Regions from separate parts of the Homo sapiens genome. Here regions 1 and 2 are each linked to region 3. Evidence: fine-mapped expression QTL. A gene starts in region 3. Each other region holds a variant in brackets. All regions are shown on one strand. Distances are from middle to middle. Region 1 has its middle 230 kb from the start of LINC01950. Region 2 overlaps EFNA5 (ephrin A5). Region 3 holds the start of EFNA5 (ephrin A5).

Region 1 (7,625 bases), 430 kb after region 3:
ATTTACTAATATTCATTTTCTGCTCTTCCTGAGAACATGACTAGACTAATTTTCCAGTCTTTCTCTTGGTTATGTGAGGCTATGTGATTGGGTTTTGGCCAGTGAAAGTGGGCGGAAGTGATGTAAGTGTGTCATCTCGCTGCCAAAGTGGTTAAGAAGAGGGCATGTCCTCCCTACCTGATGGCTGAATGGAGGCTTTCTGAAGACCTAGAGGTAGGTGGAGCCCCAAGGTAGAAAGATCTTGAATTCCTGAATGGAGATTGCATGACTAGAGACATCTGTATTGAAGTGTAACCTGAGTGTGTGTGGGTGTGTTAAGCCATTGTGATTTTAGGATTAACCTGCAGACAACAGCTTGCATTATTTCCCTAATTAGTCTTTCAGGCATAGGCAAGAGGAGGAAGAAAAGGAAGATTCTGGAGTGAATAGGGCCAGTTGAGCTGCTCTTGCCCAGATAAAATAATGACAGCTGAGTCCAGAGTTGATACAATAAAGAACACAAAGAATTTTGGAAAAATACTTATTAATTTAGATGTAAAGCATGAATTAAAAGAAAGATACAAAGATAACCTCAATATTTTAAGCTGAGAAATTAGAATAGTAGTTACCTCAGACAAAAAGGGATAATTGGAGAGAAGACCTGAAGTGGGTAATGAAGATGCAGTGAATGTTGTTTGGCATCTGAGCAATATAGGAATCTGGAAATGCAAGATGGGAGATTAGGTGAAAGGTCAGGGTATAGCTTTAGGTTTATGAGTCATTAACATCTGCAAAGAAACCAATAATAATGGCAGATTAAAAGTATGATGACAGTGTATGAGGATTTGCATGTTAAGAGAAAAATAGGAATTAGTGAAGAAGGCAGAAAAATAACCACTAGACTAAAAGGAATAAGAATGTGGAGGCAGTCTAGAGAAGAGAGTTCATGAAGTAATTTGTTTAACACTGACAAACGATTCAGATTATCACAAATGGTGAGGAATGAGAGAAAGCTATTTGCTTAGACACTTTTAGGCTCCTTCCTGGGGAGCATCCCTCTGTATGACTGGTGTAGATCTTTATAGGTAGATATTGCTATAATATAATTTGAAAGGGGTAGTCATTGGGCTGCCTTAGTGTAAGCCCAGGACAAAGGAAGCTTGGAAAAGCATAAGACACATATTTTTATTTACCATAGGTTTTGACTCTGTCATATTTGTTGAAGCATCTTTTATGTACTAGGCATTATCTACAGTGAATAGAATGGGAGACGGTCAGACCATGTATTAGTCTGTTCTCACACTGCTCATAAAAACATAAATGAGACTAGGTAATTTATAAAGGAAAGAGGTTCAATTGATACACAGTTCAGCATGGCTGGTGAGATCTCAGGAAACTTACAATCATGGCAGAAGGGGAAACAAACACAACCTTATTCACATGACGGCAGCAAGGAGAAGTGCTAAGCAAAAGGGGAAAAAGCCCCTTCTAAAACCATCAGATCTCATGAGAACTCACTCACTATCATGAGAATAGCGTGGGGGAAACTGCCCCCATGATTTAATTACCTCCAACCAGGTCCCTCCCAGGGATTATGGGAACTATAATTCAAGATGAGATTCAAGTGGGGGCACACAGCCAAACCATATTATTCCATCTCTGGCCCCTCCCAAATCTCATGTCCTCTCATTTCAAAATACAATTATGCCTTTCCAACAGTCCCTTAAAATTTCAACTTATTCCAGCATTAAACCAAAAGTCCAAGGCCAAGGTCTTATCTGAGACAAGGCAAGTCCCTTCTACCAATGAGCCTGCTAAATCAAAAGCAAGTTAGTTACTTCCTAGATATAATGGCGTTACAGGCATTGGGGAAATACACCTGCTCCAAATGGGAGAAATTGGCCAAAACAAAGGGGCCACAGGCCCCATGCAAGTCTGAAATCCAATAGGGCAGTCATGAAACCTTAAAGTTCCAAAATGATCTCTTTTGACTCCATGTCTCACATCCAGGGCACACTGGTATAAGAGGTGGAATCCCACAGCCTTGGGCAGCTCCGCCCCTACGGCTTTGCAGGTTACAGCCCCATTTCTGACTGCTTCTTAGGCTGGTATTGAGCGCCTGCAGCTTTTCCAGGCTCACAGTGCAAGCCATTGGTGGATCTACCATTCTGGAGTCTGGAAGACGGTGGTCGTCTTCTCATAGTTCCACTAGGCAGTGCCCCAGTTGGGACTCTGTGTGGGGACTCTGACCCCATATTTCCCTCCAGCTCTACCCTAGCCAGAGGTTCTTCATGAGGACTCTGCCCCTGCAGCAGACTTCTGTCTGGACATCCAGTCATTTCCATACATCCTCTGAAATCTAGGGGTAGGTTCCCAAATCTCAATTTTGACTTCTTTGCACCCACAAGCTCATGGGAGGGAGCTGCAAACACTTGGGGCTTGCACACTCTGAAGCAATGGCCTGAGCTGTAACTTGGCCCCTGTTAGCCATGGCTGGAGCAGCTAGGACTCAGGGCACCAAGTCCTTAGGCTCTTCACAGCAAGGGGGCCACAGGCCCATCTTAGGAAGCCATTTTTCTCTCCTAGGCCTCTGGGCCTATGATGGGAGGTGCTGCCACAAAGGTCTCTGACATGCCCTGGAGACATTTTCCCCTATTTTTTTGGTGATTAACATTCAGCTCCTCATTGCTTATGCAAATTTCTGCAGCCAGTTTGAATTTCTCTCCAGAAAATGGGGTTTTCTTTTCTGTCACATCATCAGGCTGCAAATTTTCCAAAATTTTATGCTCTGCTTCCTCTTGAATGATATCCACTTAGAAATTTCTGCTGCCAGATATCCTAAATCATCTCTCTCAAGTTCAAAGTTCCACAGATCTCTAGGGCAGGAGCAAAATGACACCAGTCTTTTTGCATAGCAAAAGTCACCTTTGCTCCAGTTCCTAACAAGTTCTTCATCTCCATCTGAGACCACCTTAGCCTGGACTTCATTGTCCACATCAGCATTTTGGTTAAAGCCATTCAAAAAGTCTTCTGAGCCCTCCAAGTCTCTAGGAAGTTCCAAACTCTCCCACATTTCCCTGTCTTCTTTTGAGCCCTCCATACTGTTCCAACCTCTGCCTATTACCCAGTTTCAAAGTCGCTTCCACATTTCAGGTATCCTTATAGCAGCATCCCACTGTACCGGTACCAATTTACTGTATTAGTCCATTCTCACACTGCTGATAAAGATGTACCTGAGACTGGGTAATTTATAAAGGAAAGAGGTTAAATGCACTCACAGTTCAGCATGGCTGGGGAGGCTTCAGGAAACTTACAGTCATGGCAGAAAGGGAAGCAAACACTCCCTTCTTCATATGGTGGCAGCAAGGACAAGTACTGAGAAAAATGGGGAAAAGGCCCTTATAAAACCATCAGATCTCATGAGAACTCCCTCACTATCATGAAAACAGCATGGGGGAAACTGTCCCCATGATTCAATTACCTCCCACTGGGTCCCTCCCACAACACATGAGGATTATGGGAACTACAATTTAATATGTGATTTGGGTGGGGACACAGCCAAACCATATCAGACCTCTAGCCATAATATAGAGTCATAGCTGTCCTGCTGTGCCTATAAATGGTGTCATGGGGCTACAGGGATGGATTGAACAGAGTGTTTTTTTCAGGCCTGAGTGGATGGGTCAGGGAGACAGTGATATTAAAGCAAAGTGAATTCAAATGAAGGTACAGAATGAGCAAAGGCAAACACATACTTGGATGTGGAAGATTTGTGGAATAGATGTGTTTGGGTTTTTGGGTGGTGCGGCTGAAGAGGTAGGGCTATGGGACTTGCTCTGTAGCAGTGCAGCTTTAATGAAGATTTTAAACAAAGGAGGGACACAGTTAGGTCTGTGTTTTGGCAATGCAGTTCTGATAGCCTAGAGGAGGATGGGTTAGAGATGGGAGAAACTGGAAACCAGAAAGCCCATTAAAAAATTATAGCAATTGTCAGGGAAGAAATAATGAGGTTCCTTAAGTAGAGTGGTTGGCATGCGAGGAGGGGAAAGATTTGAAAATATTTCAGAATTGGAAAAGGCTGAATTTTGTGACAGACTGGTTGTGGAAATGAGTGGGAGCTTTAAGAAAGATTTTAAAATGCTGCTTGAAATTGATTATATCATTGTAGATGTTTGGGTGGGGGCTTTGGTTTTATATATCTAGACTATGATACACTGCATCCAATCTGGGAAAAAAATTTGCCTTTACCCTTAAAAAATACCCCTAATCCAACTGCTTCTCATCACGTCCTCTCTACTACTCTAGACCAAGCCACTGGCCTCTCTTGCCTGGATTATTTCAATGCCCTCTAGTTTTCCTGCTTCTACCTTGCCTTTCTATAGT[C/T]GATTTGCAATGCAGCAATCAACGTTTTTTCTGCTAAAACATAAGGAAAAGCCTCTCCTTTTCTCAATATCTTTTGATAGCTTTCCAACTTTCTCAGAGTAAAGCCAAAACTCTCACACAATCAACAAGAGACTACTCAATCTGTCATGCCCCCTGTTTTCCTCACCCATCCATCCCACTCCAAACCCATTATCTGCCACCTGTCTCCCTTAGCTCTAGCTTCATTGGCTTCCATGCATTTCCTGGAATACACCAGGCGTTCTTCTCTGGCCCTTTGCACTTGCTTTTCTCTTGGTTGAGAATACTCTTTTAGATATCTGCATCATTTACTCCCTTACATTGTTCAGATCTTCACCCAAATGTTGTATTTCCAGAGAGGACTTCTTGGCTACCCTATCCAACATGTAAGCATGCCCCTTCATCTTTCCCCACTTTTTTGCTTAATTTTGATGCCTAGTGCTTTTGATTGTTTAAACTACTTGCTTTTTACTTAATTACTTTGTTTATTATTTGTCTTCCAACTAGAATGCAAGTTTCATGAGGGTGGGTTTTTTTTTTTTAATATCTTTTTCTGCGTTATCAGAGTGTTAAGCACACGCCCATTGCTCAATCTTTGTTGAGTGAATGAAAGTTCTAGGGAAATGCAACCTAAAAGGAAAAAGCTAAAATTGGGGGAATTATTTTCATAAGAATGTGAATTATTGAGAGATAGTTTTCATTCTCCATCAGCCAGTAATTTTATTCATTAACATTTCCTCAAATTGACTTAAAAATGTTTAAACTACATTACCCAAGTAATATAGTAATGAAAAATACACCATTTGATTATTGTTGAATTTTAAGTGTTGAAATTGGATTACAGGAGAAATTTTGAGGACATGAAGCATCAAAAGTAGCAGACTAGAAACAAATCTCTTGGATGAGGTGAGGAAAAGAAACAGAAGGATCTGTAAATTCCAAATCTACATTGGAAGGCTGGATGCAAAGAGTTAGTGGGAGGTTGTAGCCTGTTGAAGGGCTCAAAGACCTGCTTATATTTATGCTGCTTTGATCAGAAACAAAGAATTAATCAGCCATTCTCTACTCTATCATTACATTGGTAACCATATGACAACAAATGTCATCACTCTTCCAAAGACACTGAGCAATTTACTAAGGATAAAACTTGAACTGTAAGATTTAGGAAAATGTGCATTATACAATGAATGAAGTTCAAGTGGGAGAGATTATAATTGTGTACCTTCTTTTTTAAAATTTTTATTTTTTATCATGAGACGGAGTCTCACTCTGTCACCCAGGCTGAAGTGCAGTGGCACTATCCCGGCTCACAGCAACCTCCACTTACCAGGTTCAAGTGATGCTTCTGCCTCAGCCTCCTGAGTAGCTGGGATTACAGGCATGCACCACCACGCCTCGCTAATTTTTGTAATTTTAGTAGAGAGGGGTTTTCACCATGTTGGCTAGGCTGGTCTTGAACCCATGACCTCAGGTCATCCTCTTGCCTTGACTTCCCAAAGTGCTAGGATTATAGGTGTAAGCCACCGCACCCAGCCTATAATTGTGTACCTTTTGAACTAAAGAACTGTAACAGTGAGAAAGGTGAAGATAATAAAATCAGAATTGCATGATTGATTCATCCATTTGTCAACATTGATTGAATTTTTCCTTTGTGCTAGGCACTCTTCTGAATGGTAGTGATGCAAGATTAATTTTTAAAAATGCTCATTGCACTTAAAATGATCTTTGTAATGGGGGACACAGGCAGGTAGGTGAATAATTGCTTCACTGTATAAAAATATTATGGTAAAGTTATGCAAAAAGTGCTGTGGAAAGCAACGAGAACAAAATATGCAATTATAGAAGCCTGTTGTTTGCAAGACAGTAGGATATAGTTGTAAAAAAACCAGCATGTGAGGGGGAAAAAGCAGTATTTATGTTACTATGCATTTCTATATATGTGTTGTTATATTTTAAATTATATGCATATATTATGCATATATAATTTTATTAATGAAAGATAATATGAAAATAAAGATAATATATTATACACATATGTGTATGTTAATAAAATTGACAGCTGAATTAATGAATGCATATGTTAAATTGACAGCTGAATTAATGAATGATGTAGCGTCTTTGTAGATGAATGTATGTTCAGCAGTTAAAAATTTGAATCTGAGGTTCAGAACAGAGGTTAGGGCTAGAAAGCAGCATTTTAGAGGTGATAGCTAAAGCTATGGAAGTGAATGAGATTACTCAGAGTATAGAGCAAGAAGAGGGTAAAACAAAATTTTTCATTAAAGGGCATGTGGAGGAAGCGAAACCTGGGATGGAAATGGTGGAATAATATCCAGGGAATCTGGTCTTGAACCAGGAGACTCATTTTGAATGTCAAGAAAGGAAAATTTTAAGAAAAAAAATTTCAACCCTGTCAAATGCTTCATAGCATCACATAAAATTACTGAAATAAAATATTCTTAATAAAGGAAATGTTGCAAATAGCTTCTTTAATTGGTGAAAAGACTCAAAGTTTTAAAATGGTTTTGTTACCATAAAGAGTATTGGGTACCTCCATACCTATAAAAAAGTAATTCAGGAACTAAAGGAAGAAAAATGTAAAATATAAAGTTTCCAATGTGACCTTTCCATTGTGTCAGCAATCATATTACCTGGTTTTTATTAGTCCAATAAAGCTATAGTTTTTTTTTTTTAATTCAGGTTTGGATAAAGTGCACATGATTTCTGGATTTTCAACATATACTCTGTAAGGCCATAAGGAAGGCGTAGCATGGATCCAATTTTATAGAATCTATCTTTTTTCCCCAGGTCACCTTTTTCTGCCCTCTTCTTTCCTAATATTTCCTATAGAATCTCTCTGTGGTTTTCAAAATCCCACTGGCATGTTTTTGTCAGACCCGACATTCATCTTGTTGTGGGCTCAGATACTTCTGAAAGATCAAATCACAGAGCTTAATAAAATGCAGATAATGGCATTTTTGCCTATGTGGTGCGTCTATTTCTTAACAAATTTAGGGGAAATTCTATATGGTAAATGGAAGAGTTGGCACTAAGGAAGTTAAGAACATTGGCGGGCAGCAATGTGATTACTGGCTGGAAGAAATGTGGATGAATTGGTCTATATCTAATCCTTTTGTGGCTTCCTGTGTGACACACTGTAATGAAAACATCACCGCAAATTATAAGAATTGTCAAAATAGGCTACCAGAGATTTTTTTTGTTCTGGAGTTTGCTAACCAAAAATG
Region 2 (7,625 bases), 170 kb after region 3:
AAATCTCCTTGTCTACTATGATTTCCAGCTGTCCAGATTTCCCATATAGCATGCCCTAGGCAATGTTTGCAGATTTGTTGCATGGAGAATCAGTACACAGTGCACCTTGTAGTTTTACATTTTTCATGTAGGACTCAGTTTCTTTTCTAAAGAAATTTTTGTGAAATTAATAACAGGATGCCATGAAGCTTTCCTAAGTCCTTTGAACTTAAATCATTTGATATTATTTGAAATTGCCATTCATATAATGAACAGCATTTTTTCTCAGAGTTATGCAATGCCTACTGCTTCACAAATTATAAACTACGAATATTTTTACTTAACATATAACAGGTCCCTTATCTTAAAATTCATAGCATTTTTGCTTTGAATGGAGATCATTGCCAAGTTTTTGTTAGGCACCTTTTCTTTACAGAGCTTGTCCTTTATTATTAATGTCACAGTAGTTTTTCAGAACAAATTGCATTAAAGATACGGAAAAACAAAGGCTACCTTTTATACATACATTGGTTTATTGAAGCAATAATTGAATAATAAATAGGATGATATTATAGGGCCAAAATTTTACTACTAGTTATATGACAGGTTTTTCTGTTATAGCTATATTTTTGAAGCATTTTAAAATAAAATAATTAGGGTTATTCCTAAAGATTAAAATTCAGAGTCTACTAGAATAGTAATGAAAATCATTATAATTGTACTTTCACAAACATGTGCCAGACCTTTTAAGCTTGGTGCCTAAATAGGCTTCGACAACACTTTTTCATGTACTCCTACCAAATATCTTGGGGATAGGTAGGGAAGCTGTTCCACTGATTTTACAGATGGGCAGACTGAATCATAGAGCAGTTAAATGATTTGCCCAGGGTAATGTAGTAATTAGATATCTGTATCTGTCTGTGCTCTTTTCATTAGTTTATTCTGCAGCTCAAAATGTTTGTTCCTATAAGCATGCATATTATTTGTACATTAATAATGCATTTTCTATTTCTATAAAAGAAGAGAGAATAGCAGATAAAGCTCCAAATAGAGAAGACACATATTTTAGTAAGGTAGCTTTAGCATCTAGTTCTTTTTTATATATATAACATATCACTAAAAATGTATCCTCTTCGAGTGTAGGGACACATTTTGCTTTACTTAACAGCATTCATTTAAGAAAAATGCTAGTTTCATTTCAAGTCAGTTACTTTAAAAAATAATTATGTTAAAAGATATTTTAGCCCTTGTCAGTCTGTAATTCAAACCTTAAGAATGAAGCTCTTTTTTTAGTTAATTTAAAAAATACCCTCTCTTTAAATACTTTCATCCTGAACAAAAAAGACCTTTCTTTTGGGATTCCTTCTCTGCATGGCAGAGTTCCTTACAACAAAATGCTCGAAGAAAATAGGAGGTACTTCAGATACTTCTTATATAACTGATGTTTGAAAATGTTAGACTGATTGATGTATAAAAGTGAATTTTCCATAATGGGATTTTAAGTCATGAAGAATGAGGAGAATTGCCTGATTATTAGTTTAAAGGTAGCTAATTCAATGCATGCTGTAATACATTTTAAAAGCTCTGCATTGCAAATACTGAATGATGTAAAATACAAAATACACATCTTTTTATTTCCAAAGAAGATTAGAAAACAATAAAATATTAGAAACTGAAATTTTTAATTTTTTAATGGCCTTTTTAATGGGTAAACAATTTAGTAATAAAAAATATTAATGGTTATGAAGATAATAATTTTAAAGTGACTGCTGATAGCTTGGGTTACAAATAGCCTTATCCTTAAGACCTTATCTCTTTATAATTTAAGTGCTTTTACATATTTTGCCTCATTTACTTTTAAAGCTTCATGATACAGTGATTTGTGTGGGTGGCACAGTTCTTACTACGTAAGTAGTGAAACATAGCCATAGGTTAAATGATTTACTCTTAATTTTATGCTGACTTTTTCAGGCAATTTCTGAGGCTTTATGTTGCCTGTATTCTGAGCAACGAATGATTGAAAACAGCGAGGAATTCTGGAGATAGACATCGGAACACCTCTTCTTAGAAGATCACATTATTCAGAATCCTTAATGATTCTTACCTTTTGAATGACAGATTTTTAGTGGACATAAAAACTGCTAATGAAAGTAGGATGGTTAGAACTGTTGACATTTTACGTGAAGGCATTGCAACTGGGCAAAACATATTCAAAACATCAGGTAGTATTTTGTTCACTGTGCACCGAAGGCAGATGACTTCATTAACTGGTGACAATTTTACCAATCCTGGAAGCTTTGATCTTGAGGGGAAACGATCCTGCATAGTAGACAAGTTTATTGGCAATAGATGACCTGGTAGTAAACAGTGGAGTTCACAGCTGAAACTGCACCCTGTGCCCGCCCTTTCCCAACATGCTGTGATGCATTTTGAGCTCTTCCATTTTAGCTTCCATTATCCACCACCCAAGTTCTCAATTCAATTTCAGACTCGGGCAAAAGCCTGTAATTCTATTTGTTTTGGGTAAATTTAGCAAGCTGCTCCTGATTACACCTTAGCCAGAGACCATCTGTTGACTGGCGTGCCTCTCTGAGGAGTGGTTCCTGTAGGCAATGAATGGGAAGAGGGTTGGAGTGCTGCTGCTATTAGTAAGCAGATGCACCGTATCAGAGATAGTCCTTCCCGCCTTTCAATCTGCCAGCTCTCTGTATTGATGGAGTGTCGTATGCCTGCGAGTCGTTCCATCCTGAGGCAATGAGAAGTGCTCTCCTAGGGTCCATTTATCAAGTGCTTCTACTGGCATTTGATGGAAAGGAATTTAGAAGTCATAGTTTGATACACTTCGAGCACGGCCACGTTCTCCTTTGCACGTCCTGAGTATGTATGTATGTGTGTGTATATATCAACCCCATGTACATGCTTTTCAGCAGTTATGTGCTGTCAAAAGCCCCACAGATGAAACAACAAGATACAGCTGTGCTTCGTAATGTAATGAGTAAACCGCCACAGCAATTGTGTCAGGATCACAATTCTTTAAGGCACTGCTTCCTAAAATGATTGCCGGTTCATTTGCATCAGATAGGGAAGATGTGCTAGATAAATTCAGAATGTCGAGGAACAGTTTGATGTTGACTGTGGCATGATGAGGGATCTTTCTAAATGATGATACTGTTAGCTCGTGGCTAAGACGAGACTGGTCTAAACACAACAGAGACGGCAGTTTCCTGTTGCAGTGAGTCATGAGAGGAAATGGATAAAATGAACATAAATTAACTGCATTTCGTTTTCTAAGAGTTGGAGAGGGAAGGGAAGGAGGCAGTGGATGGCCAGTGTGCCTGAAAACTGGAATTAGATCGGTGAACTGAGAGGATTGGTTTCTGCCCTACGTTGGGTGAAGAGGGGCAGTCCTCATTGCTAACAGCCGCAGGTTGGTGTAATTAACTAACTT[C/T]CGTAGGCAATGCCCGGTGTACATCTTGAAAACCCATCAGATGGGGTATTTCTCACTGACATCAGCTTTTAAAGGGAGGAGGGCTCATAGTTGTATCACAGCTGCAGTACTTTTCTTTAAGGCAAGAAACAGTTTAAATCAGAGAAAATTTCACAGGATTCTAGATCGACTACTTTTTTCATCTAGTTCTATTATTTTGACCTTATGGCCGTTTTTTGTTTGTTTAATGGCGTGAATTAAAGTGTGACATTTCTGTCCATCTTTTCACGTACAAAATCAGCATTCGTTAATTCAGGTTATGAAAATAATTGCTGCTTCAACAAAGTGAGGCTTAAAATACCACAACAGAAATGTAGCCGATAGTATGTATCTTAACTTTTAGTTTATAATGACTGTATTAAAATGATATTACAGTTTTAAGTTTTTCAAACAAATAGTGAATGGTTGTGCAAAATAAGACACTGAAATATTTTTTAAAGAATTAAAATCACAAATGTTGAATGAGAAAAATAGTTTCTGAGAATTTCTTTGCTAAATCAGGGCAATTTGGTTTATTGCCAAACTGATTAAGGAGGGGCTGATTTCATAAGCTATAATATCTGTACTTTTATGTCATCTCTGATATAACAGTATATAATGTATTTAAGACTGCAGATCATCATTAAACCACATAATGATTGTTACACAGATAAAATAAGAAGCTTAATTTGTAGCTAAAGACTGTATCTTATTGATTGTATAGTTGATGTTGTGTTGTGCAGGAGGTAAGAAATATCCTAAGTAAGAAACAGAATATTTTAAAAAAATATTTACAAAATCATATAGTTGAGTCAATATCTATAAGTGAGGCTTAATCCATGCAAATAAATTGTTTTAACAAGGGCCTGTGGCTTTAAGAATGACACTTGATCTATATGCTGTAGAAGGCTTGTAGAAGTTGTCCTCATATTAGTTTATACTATGCACACAATATGTCCTTATCTAGCCTGATGCATGCTCTAAAACAGGAAGCATAAAACCAAGACGACACCAGGTATGAATAAATAGTAAGAGTTAGGAGCTGGAGCTGACTCCACTGTGAATTCTCCCACTCACTTGTTCACAGGTTTCTTCCTGCAGGCTTCAGGATGAACAATCCTGGCTGAAATGTTCACAGGAAACCTTTTTGTTTTGTTTTTTTTTAATGAATATTTTTTAGGTACTTGCTATTTGAAGAAACAAAGTCAAGGTGATTTAAGGGCCAGGCAAATATCCCTTAAAGACCTTTGTTATAATATAGCCCTTTTATTATATTTGAATATATGCTCAGATGCCTGCAGAATTTCATGTTCCAGTCAGGGTAGAGCAGGCTAATTTTTAAGGGACATGTGCTTCAGTACACAAATAGGGTAATAAATAAGACTAACAAGTGTGCATTCAGGCTACATGTATAAGAGGGTAAGAGGTGAGACAGCCACACCATATGAGGATAGGGTTGGGTGGAAACAAAGCCAGGCTAATGGAAAGCCTTGCCTGCTCTCTTCTAGAAAAAAATTGAACTCAGGTCAGTAAATAGTGCTGCACTCTGGGAGAGACAAGTATATGACAGGTCTTTGCTTTATGTGAAGCTTACAGTGGGACTAGGCTTACCCTGGCAAAATTATTACAGAACAAGAAAGACTTTGCAGTAAAGAGCAACAGAAAGAAGAAATGCAGAGCTACAAATACTTTCTTTAGCAGATATACGTATACATTGTAGGGAAAACGTAAAAGATCAGCCTTCGTGCCCTACAGACCACAGTTAATAGTGATGTTTGTGGCAGTTTTTCCTTATTGCAGATTATAAATAGTTCCAGGGAACAAATAATTACTAATGATCAACTTATAGTTGGAGATATTATATTGCATTGGTCTCTCACAATGGAGGTTCTGCTTTGACACTATCCAAGAGTGGCATTTGGGTGAATAAAAAGAGAGGGGAATAGAAAAGCTACAACTGAAGCATTAGTTAGAACACTGTCAATGCCAAATCACAACTGCTTTGTGCTGTGGATTCCTTTCTGCAGGCTGCAGGATGAATGATCCGGGTTGAAACACACACAGTACACTGCAGAACTGAGACTGTGACCCATGGGCTTTCTCCTGCTGGCCCCTCTCAGATATTCCAGTTGGTGTTGCTAGCTTTACAGTCTCCATGGGCCTATTTACCTTGGTAATTTGCACCTGATGCATTTATATTGGTAATTTTTTTTCTCCCTGGAACCCTGGGATCTCATTTATTCACTAGTGCAATGAAGTGGTGGAGTGAAAATCCCTCCCTAACTCAAGGAGGGGAAGAATTGTTTAGGGAAAATAGCAACCCTGCTAACTGCAGCTCTAATTAAAACACCAAAAGAAGACTTGTTCTTATTTAGACGTTGGCTAATACCTGTATCTCTGTGCACATATAGGCCAATGCTAGTCCATCTGTGGGCATCACTGCTAACTTGCTAACCCTTTAAAAAAATCCAGTGTCAATATGTTTTTGTTTCAAAAGAAAACAATGACAGCCCTAGGATGGAAACACAGGAATTCTTTGGCCACAGCTTGCTAAAACCATGCTTGGTAGTATGTGCATGTAGGGAAAATTACTTTGAATAACAAAAGCACAAACAAGGACTCATAGAATAATAAGCAATTAAGGTGGATTAACAACAGTTGCCGAATTCCAGCTGTTGGCTGCAGATGCAGGCTCTTTAATTCAAACTAGTTGCAACCTGTTGTTACTCAGAGACAGAAAGGGAGAAGAGTATATCCCTGGCAGTGCCCATATCAGGGCAGGTTTATTGTTGTGCATTGTGGGAGATTTAAGTATTGAGGGTATGTTTACTTTCTCCCGATTTAAAAAAAAATTTCATCTTTCTTCTCTTTTTTTGACATCTTCCTATATATATTTGTGTCTTTCGATTTAGAATGACTAACCAAAATCTATGTGCTTGCTATTTGGTTATGATAATGAAAAAGGAGAAGAGAGCAAAGCAGGTGTCTGTTTCCAATGGAAATCTCACAGTAAAAGAAATCAAAGACTCCTTTGGCTGATACACATACATACATACATACATACATACATACATACATACTTATATACATAAAGAAAAGCACAGGCCCCAACGACACAACCTGGGGAAACTATATGAACAGGTAATTTACAGGGTAATCACCATATGTAGTCTATCCCCTGCAGCCTTATCACAGTGTGTACATTGGCATCAAACCTACCTCCTTGGAAAGCCTCATTATTAGTATTCAGGAATAGTCCCTCTAAGCATATTGGCCAGAGGTCTGAGGTGCAGGGCTAGCTTCATGGCATTCAACCTGTGCTGTCACACAGGGCCCTGAGCTCAGAAGGGCCCCATACTTGGCTTAAGGCTCCGCTGTCACTGTCTCAAAATTCTGAATTTTATCTTTGAACTAGTGTTTCATAAATGGAGCATCTTCATGAGCCGAGGCGATGTGTGATATGTTTGTTTGTCCATTGTGGCACTATCTGCATATCACATTCACAGTTTTTCACAAATACAGAATTCTGATAGACTATGATGTGTGGGGGTCCAGGGAAGCTCCAGGGGAGTAGAAAGTAAGTGGATTATGGAAGCTGTCTGTTCCTGTAGTGTGTTGGTATAATATGCATGAATCAAGAAATTTGTGAGTGAGTTTCAGTTGAGTTAGTTGTGTAGTGTTTCCACTGCCCTAGTAAGAATGAAATAAATATACGTGTATGAGCTATGAAAAAAGGTTGTGTCATATTATTCCACATGTAAGTTAAATGCTCTTATATTTGCATTGAAACTGTCACTGTACCATATAAAGATAAATTGTAGGCCGGGCTTGTTGGCTCACGCCTGTAATCCCAGCACTTTGGGAGGCCGAGAAAGGCGGATCACTTGAGGTCAGGAGCTCAAGGCCAGCCTGGCCAACATGGTGAAACCCCGTCTCTACTAAAAATACAAAAATTAGCTGGGCATGATGGCACATGTCTGTAATCCCAGCTACTTGGGAGGCTGAGGCAGAAGAATCACTTGAACTCAGGAGGCCGAGGCTGCAGTAAGCCGAGATCGCGCCACTGCACTCCAGCCTGGGTGACAGATTGAGACTCCGTCTCAAAAAATAATACTACTAATAATAAAAATAAAGATAAATGGTAAACTTCATGCTAATAATTAAATGTTTTAGTTTTTCT
Region 3 (5,000 bases):
GAAAGGCACAGGAGGGGTGCTCAGACTTCCAGATAACCCAGCGCCAGGCAGCGTGCGGCGTGGAGAGCGGGTGGAATGGACAGGAACGCGCACTCCCTGAGGCTCCGTTCCAGCCCATCCGTCACCTGCGGGGCACCAGAGACAGATGCCGGCTCTCCAGCCAAAGGGTGGGCACAGGTTCCTTTAAAATCGAAAGACCCTACTCCCAGGTAAAAAGATGTCAAATCATTCCTTAGCCCAGACGGAATTCAGCACCCAAAGGGTTACACGTGGCTGCCGGGCTCCGGCGCAGGAGAGGGCGCCTCGGCACTCCCAGTAATTCAATTAGTCAGGTTTCTAGAAGGTGGGGCGGGGGAGGGGGTAGGAGGCGTGGGGAAGGGAGATTAGGAAAACGCCTCTTTCTCGTGGAGCAAACCAATCCGGTTGGAGTAAAGAGAGAGGAAAAACCCCCAATCTGTAAGCAAACAGTAGGCCGTTCCCTGACTGGTTGCTCCAGCTATCCCCCCACCGCGCTCCCACCCTTCCCAAGTAAACTGCTTGGAAGGAGGAAAAAAAAAAAAAAAAAAAAAAAGACAGTCCACATGACCCGGGCCGCAGCGGCAGCAGCGCTGGCTGGGCGCGGGCTGGCGGCACCTCCCCCTGCTTCGTCCGGAGCTCACACCCGCGCTCGCGCCGCCCGCCCGTCCCGCGTCCCGCGCAACACGCCCGGGCGGAGCCCCATCCCCCCGCCCACGTCCACGTTCACGCGTGCGGCCTCGCGCTCTGCTGAGGCTGCTGCCACTGGGTCGCCGCCGCTGTCGGCTTTCCACGCAAGTCATTAACGAGGGGGCGTGCCCGAGGAGATTTTTTTTCCCATAAAGCATTTTTTCTCTCGCTCTCTTTTTTTCCCCCTCTTTTGCAAAACTGACTTTTACAAAACCCTTTCCACTTCTTGCCAGTCGTTTCAATTCCTCCTGGGCTGCTCGTGCTGCTGCTGCTGCACTCAAGTTTATTTATTTTCCCGCCTGGGTAGGGGTTTTAGGATTCGGTTTGTGGTTTTCACCTCTGTTGCTGCTGTGCCTAAGGAGGGAAAGAGGAGCAGCTGCGGGAGGATCGGGAAGGTTTTCTGATGTAGTCATCGGGGAGGTGCCACTCGCTCGTGCGCTTTTTTTTTTTCCTCTTTTCCCATTTCAAACTGATTGATGCATCTCTACAAGTTGCTAGGCTTGGACCCGCTGGAGTCGCAGGGACACTTCTGAGAGCTCACCCCGGGCTCTTGGCACCGCGTGTGGGGGCTCAGTCTCCCTCTCGGAAGGCGATCGGAGACTGACATCGGCCCATCCAGGAGTTGGAGGGATCCATTTGAAAGTGATTGTTTCCCCTCCCGCTCTCCAGCCGAACAGTTGGGTTGGCGTCGTCTTGCAGGTTTAGGAATCCCAGCTCTGCCAGGCCGGCTGGTCTTAACCTCTGCTCTTCATTCACTGTGGTGCACCCACACCCAGCCAAGGAAAGCACGCGCGAGAAATCCCCGAGGCTCGGCCAGCCCCCGGGGTGCCCTCTTCCGCTACCGCCGCGTTCCGACTCTGCTGGGGGACCTGCCGGAAGACGCGAAGAGCCAAACTTTTCTTTGAGGTTTTCGAGGCAAGACCGCTTCGAAAGCCGGCGCAGCTGCCGCTTAACCAGTTCCAGGACACCGACAAGGCTGGGTTGCGGCTCCGGATCCCCACCCTTCTCGGCGCACCGCCCGGTACCGCAGCACTTACGACTCCTCTGAGATTTCTGGGGGTCGCCCCGCTAAGGCACAGAGGAGGCTGAGGAAAGGGGTTCTCAGACTCCCGGGACCACAAGCGCGAAGCCCTCTATCAGCACGTCGCCCTTCTCCTGCAGTTTCCCACCGGCCGCCAAAGTAACTTGGAGCGAAGCGTGGCGCAGTGCGAGGGCCCCGGGCGGTGGCGGAGCCGTGCGTAGCCTGCTGCGCCGACGCTGAGCCGGGCCCGGCGGGCCGGTGTATGTCTCCCCGCGGCTGCGGCGCGCAACTCCCGGTGACTGTGCAGCGCGCGCCGCCGCCTGCCCCGACCCGCGCTGCAGCCGCCCGGCCCGGCGCGCACCTCCCTCTCCCGGGGTGACCGGCCTGCCGCCGCCGCCCGAGACACAGCTTGGCACCTCTTCCCCCGCCCTCGCCGCCGCCACCACACACACGCACGCTTCTCTCCATCTTGTGATTCCTTTTTCCTCCTGAACCCTCCAGTGGGGGTGCGAGTTTGTCTTTATCACCCCCCATCCCACCGCCTTCTTTTCTTCTCGCTCTCCTACCCCTCCCCAGCTTGGTGGGCGCCTCTTTCCTTTCTCGCCCACTTTCATTTTTATTTATTCATATTTATTTGGCGCCCGCTCTCTCTCTGTCCCTTTGCCTGCCTCCCTCCCTCCGGATCCCCGCTCTCTCCCCGGAGTGGCGCGTCGGGGGCTCCGCCGCTGGCCAGGCGTGATGTTGCACGTGGAGATGTTGACGCTGGTGTTTCTGGTGCTCTGGATGTGTGTGTTCAGCCAGGACCCGGGCTCCAAGGCCGTCGCCGACCGCTACGCTGTCTACTGGAACAGCAGCAACCCCAGGTAAGCCGATAACAGGCGGAGAGCCAGGGCTACCCGGGCCTCGGGGCCCTGCGGAAGGAGCGGCGGCGGGGATCGGCGCGCACCAACCGCTGGCGGCGCGCACCCTCGGAGCCTGCGTCGCCCGGGCGCTGATGGCTTGAGGCGTCGGCGGGAAGCGCTCGCGTCGCGCCCCTCTTTGTTAAGCCGCCGCGGAAAGGCCAGGTACCCCTGGGAGTCCCCGGGGCTGCCTAGACCAACTGCTTCTGCGGGGCGCCGGGAGACTCGGAAAAGGGCGGGAGCCGGGGAGTAGGGACTTCTCTGCTTCCCAGCCCCGGCATCTGGCTGGCATCCGGTTCCCGGCGCGGGGAGCCCCCAGTGTGCGCAGCCGGGAGCTCCTTCCTGGAGCGTGGGTCCGCAGGGACTGCGGAGAGAACCCGCCAAACATCCCCCAAAGTTTTTTTTTTTTTTTTTTTTTTTTTAATTTTAATTTTCCCTTCTCTTTTCCCGGTGCGCGCAGAGAGAGCGCACGGGCTGGGGGAAGTGAGGGGGGCTGGGAAGCGGAAGCTTTAGGTTTTTATTTTCCTCTTCAACTGCGAGGAAATCATTCGGCCCCTGAGTCAGTCTGGGCCCGGCGCGCCTGGCAGTGGAGAGGATTCTCCCATCTTCTCCATCCCTCCACCCACCCCAGTGGGTTCAAGGTGCCAGAAAGTTTGATCTAATGCCGGGTTACGTCATGTGTGCAGAACAAGCTGCCAGAGTTGGCCGAGCCAGGAGGTGGGAGCCCTTCGCCCGCGGCCTGGCGATGTGCTGCCGGAGGAACGCGCGCGATTACCTGGAACCGATTTGTAGGCGTCCCGAAGCCCGCCGGGTATGCGGGAGACTAGAGGTGGGCGCCGGGGGCGGTCCTAGTGCGCGTGCTGGACACCGGCCAGTCGCAGACGTCCCGTGTTTTCGGACCCTGGAAGTGGAGTGGGGAGGTTATCCAGAGTGCCCGGCGGGGTCCTCCGGGTCTGGAGCAGTTCCGAACCTTTATTGCTTCCCGGCCTGTGCACAGAAGTCGGCCCCGCTAGGCCCATACCGCACTGCTTTCTCTGGGACAGAGGCTAGCTTCCAGCTGTGTGCCGGTCTCGGTGCCCTCCTAGGTGCTATTTATTAATAGTACCGATTGCATCTAAAGTCACAGGTTTTTCACTGGGCTGGAGTGGAAGTTGGGAAGAGAGAGGCGGGAGGCCGAGGGGTTAGCCTAAGAGTTGGTGCGCGCCCCGGGCTCCAGGAGAGAGGGTATCGGTGGGCGCCTCCAGTTTTTTCTATCTCCTGCGGGCCCTCTCCGCCTGCCTCCAGCCTCCCCTCAGCATGCAGGCAAGAGAGGGATTCCCTGCTTGAATAATGTCAGCGCAGATGAAGATGGGAAGATTTCCCCACAAGCAGTCCGCCGGTTACAGAACCAGGAGGGAGTTCCCCCTATCCCGCTAGTCCAAGATAGTCTTACTCAGGTAGCCGCCCAAGTCCTAAATGAACCGCTGAACAGGAGTGGAGATATTCCTGAAAGTTTGGTTCAAAAAACAAGAGTCTCCTGGAGGTGGGTGGTGGAATGGGAAGCGATTTCTTCTTTGACATGCCACTTACCACTATTAGGAAAAGAGAAAAAGAAGCCATCCTGCCAGAGGAGAGATGCCTTTTATTAAAGCTGACAAGACAAATAGAGCAAGCTTTCCAGTTGTGATGGTGTTAAAAGCCAGTCTCATTATGTTGGTTAGTTTTTTTTCCCCGTTTGTGCTTTATTAGGCAGCATATACGAAGCAGAAATTTGTATCTCTGAACTTTAGCACCTTATTAAATAAAGCAACACTGAAATAGTTTCTTTGAATTTGGGATATCTTGCTCTCGGTTGTCTTTTCTTTCCCACACCAAGCTCCACATTGTGATCTTTTTCTCATGGCATTCATTTATTTGGATACTTGGGTGTTCCAGTCTTCCTGGGTTAAAACGGAAAGAACCAGCAACACCCCTACTTTAACCCCCCTTCTTAACCTGTCAAGCTAGTCTGAGTTAGTTTGAGGACATTTTATCTTAGGTTATCTCTGTTTTGTGCTTTTGATACTGTTGTTTGGTTTGAGATTAGCACATTGATTTTTGTCACAGGTCATGTTTTTTAATAGATCTGCCCTGCCTGCAGAAAACTCTTCTGCTCAGGATGCCATGGAGGCTTTGAACCTGCCCAGACAAAGTTAATCTGCAGAATTTTAAAATACCAAGAGTATTTCTAAATCGGTATTCTAACTTCAGGTTTGTAGAATTACCTTTCTATTTGATCATTATCAGTTTGATAATGGCCAAAAGAAAGAATGATGTACCCCTCTTAACCCCAAGAGATACAGCCCTAACACTTATTATTCTTAGGAATTTATGGACACATTTATCTTGGTATGTTA

What was found. PIP is the estimated chance that this variant, and not a neighbour inherited with it, causes the effect.
Region 1: its variant is the best candidate, but not a certain one, in a credible set for the expression of EFNA5 in tibial artery (GTEx, PIP 0.74).
Region 2: its variant is the best candidate, but not a certain one, in a credible set for the expression of EFNA5 in blood mononuclear cells (TOPMed, PIP 0.64).

Annotation. Positions count from the first base shown.
Region 1 is chr5:107,235,256-107,242,880 of GRCh38, reverse strand. No RefSeq gene overlaps it. Among named protein-coding and RNA genes, the nearest start is that of LINC01950, 230 kb to the right of the region's middle. The variant C/T (reference allele first, on the strand shown) is at 4,363.
Region 2 is chr5:107,497,856-107,505,480 of GRCh38, reverse strand. The region is part of intron 1 of EFNA5 (ephrin A5); the gene reads left to right. Among named protein-coding and RNA genes, the nearest start is that of EFNA5, 170 kb to the left of the region's middle. RefSeq lists an enhancer at 5,790-6,291. The variant C/T (reference allele first, on the strand shown) is at 3,428.
Region 3 is chr5:107,668,078-107,673,077 of GRCh38, reverse strand. It overlaps EFNA5 (ephrin A5), which reads left to right and starts at 2,141. Exons shown (of 5, transcript NM_001962.3): 1 at 2,141-2,589. The coding sequence starts at 2,465. RefSeq lists silencers at 629-698, 2,059-2,108, 2,679-2,748 and enhancers at 1,529-1,668, 2,379-2,508, 2,909-2,988.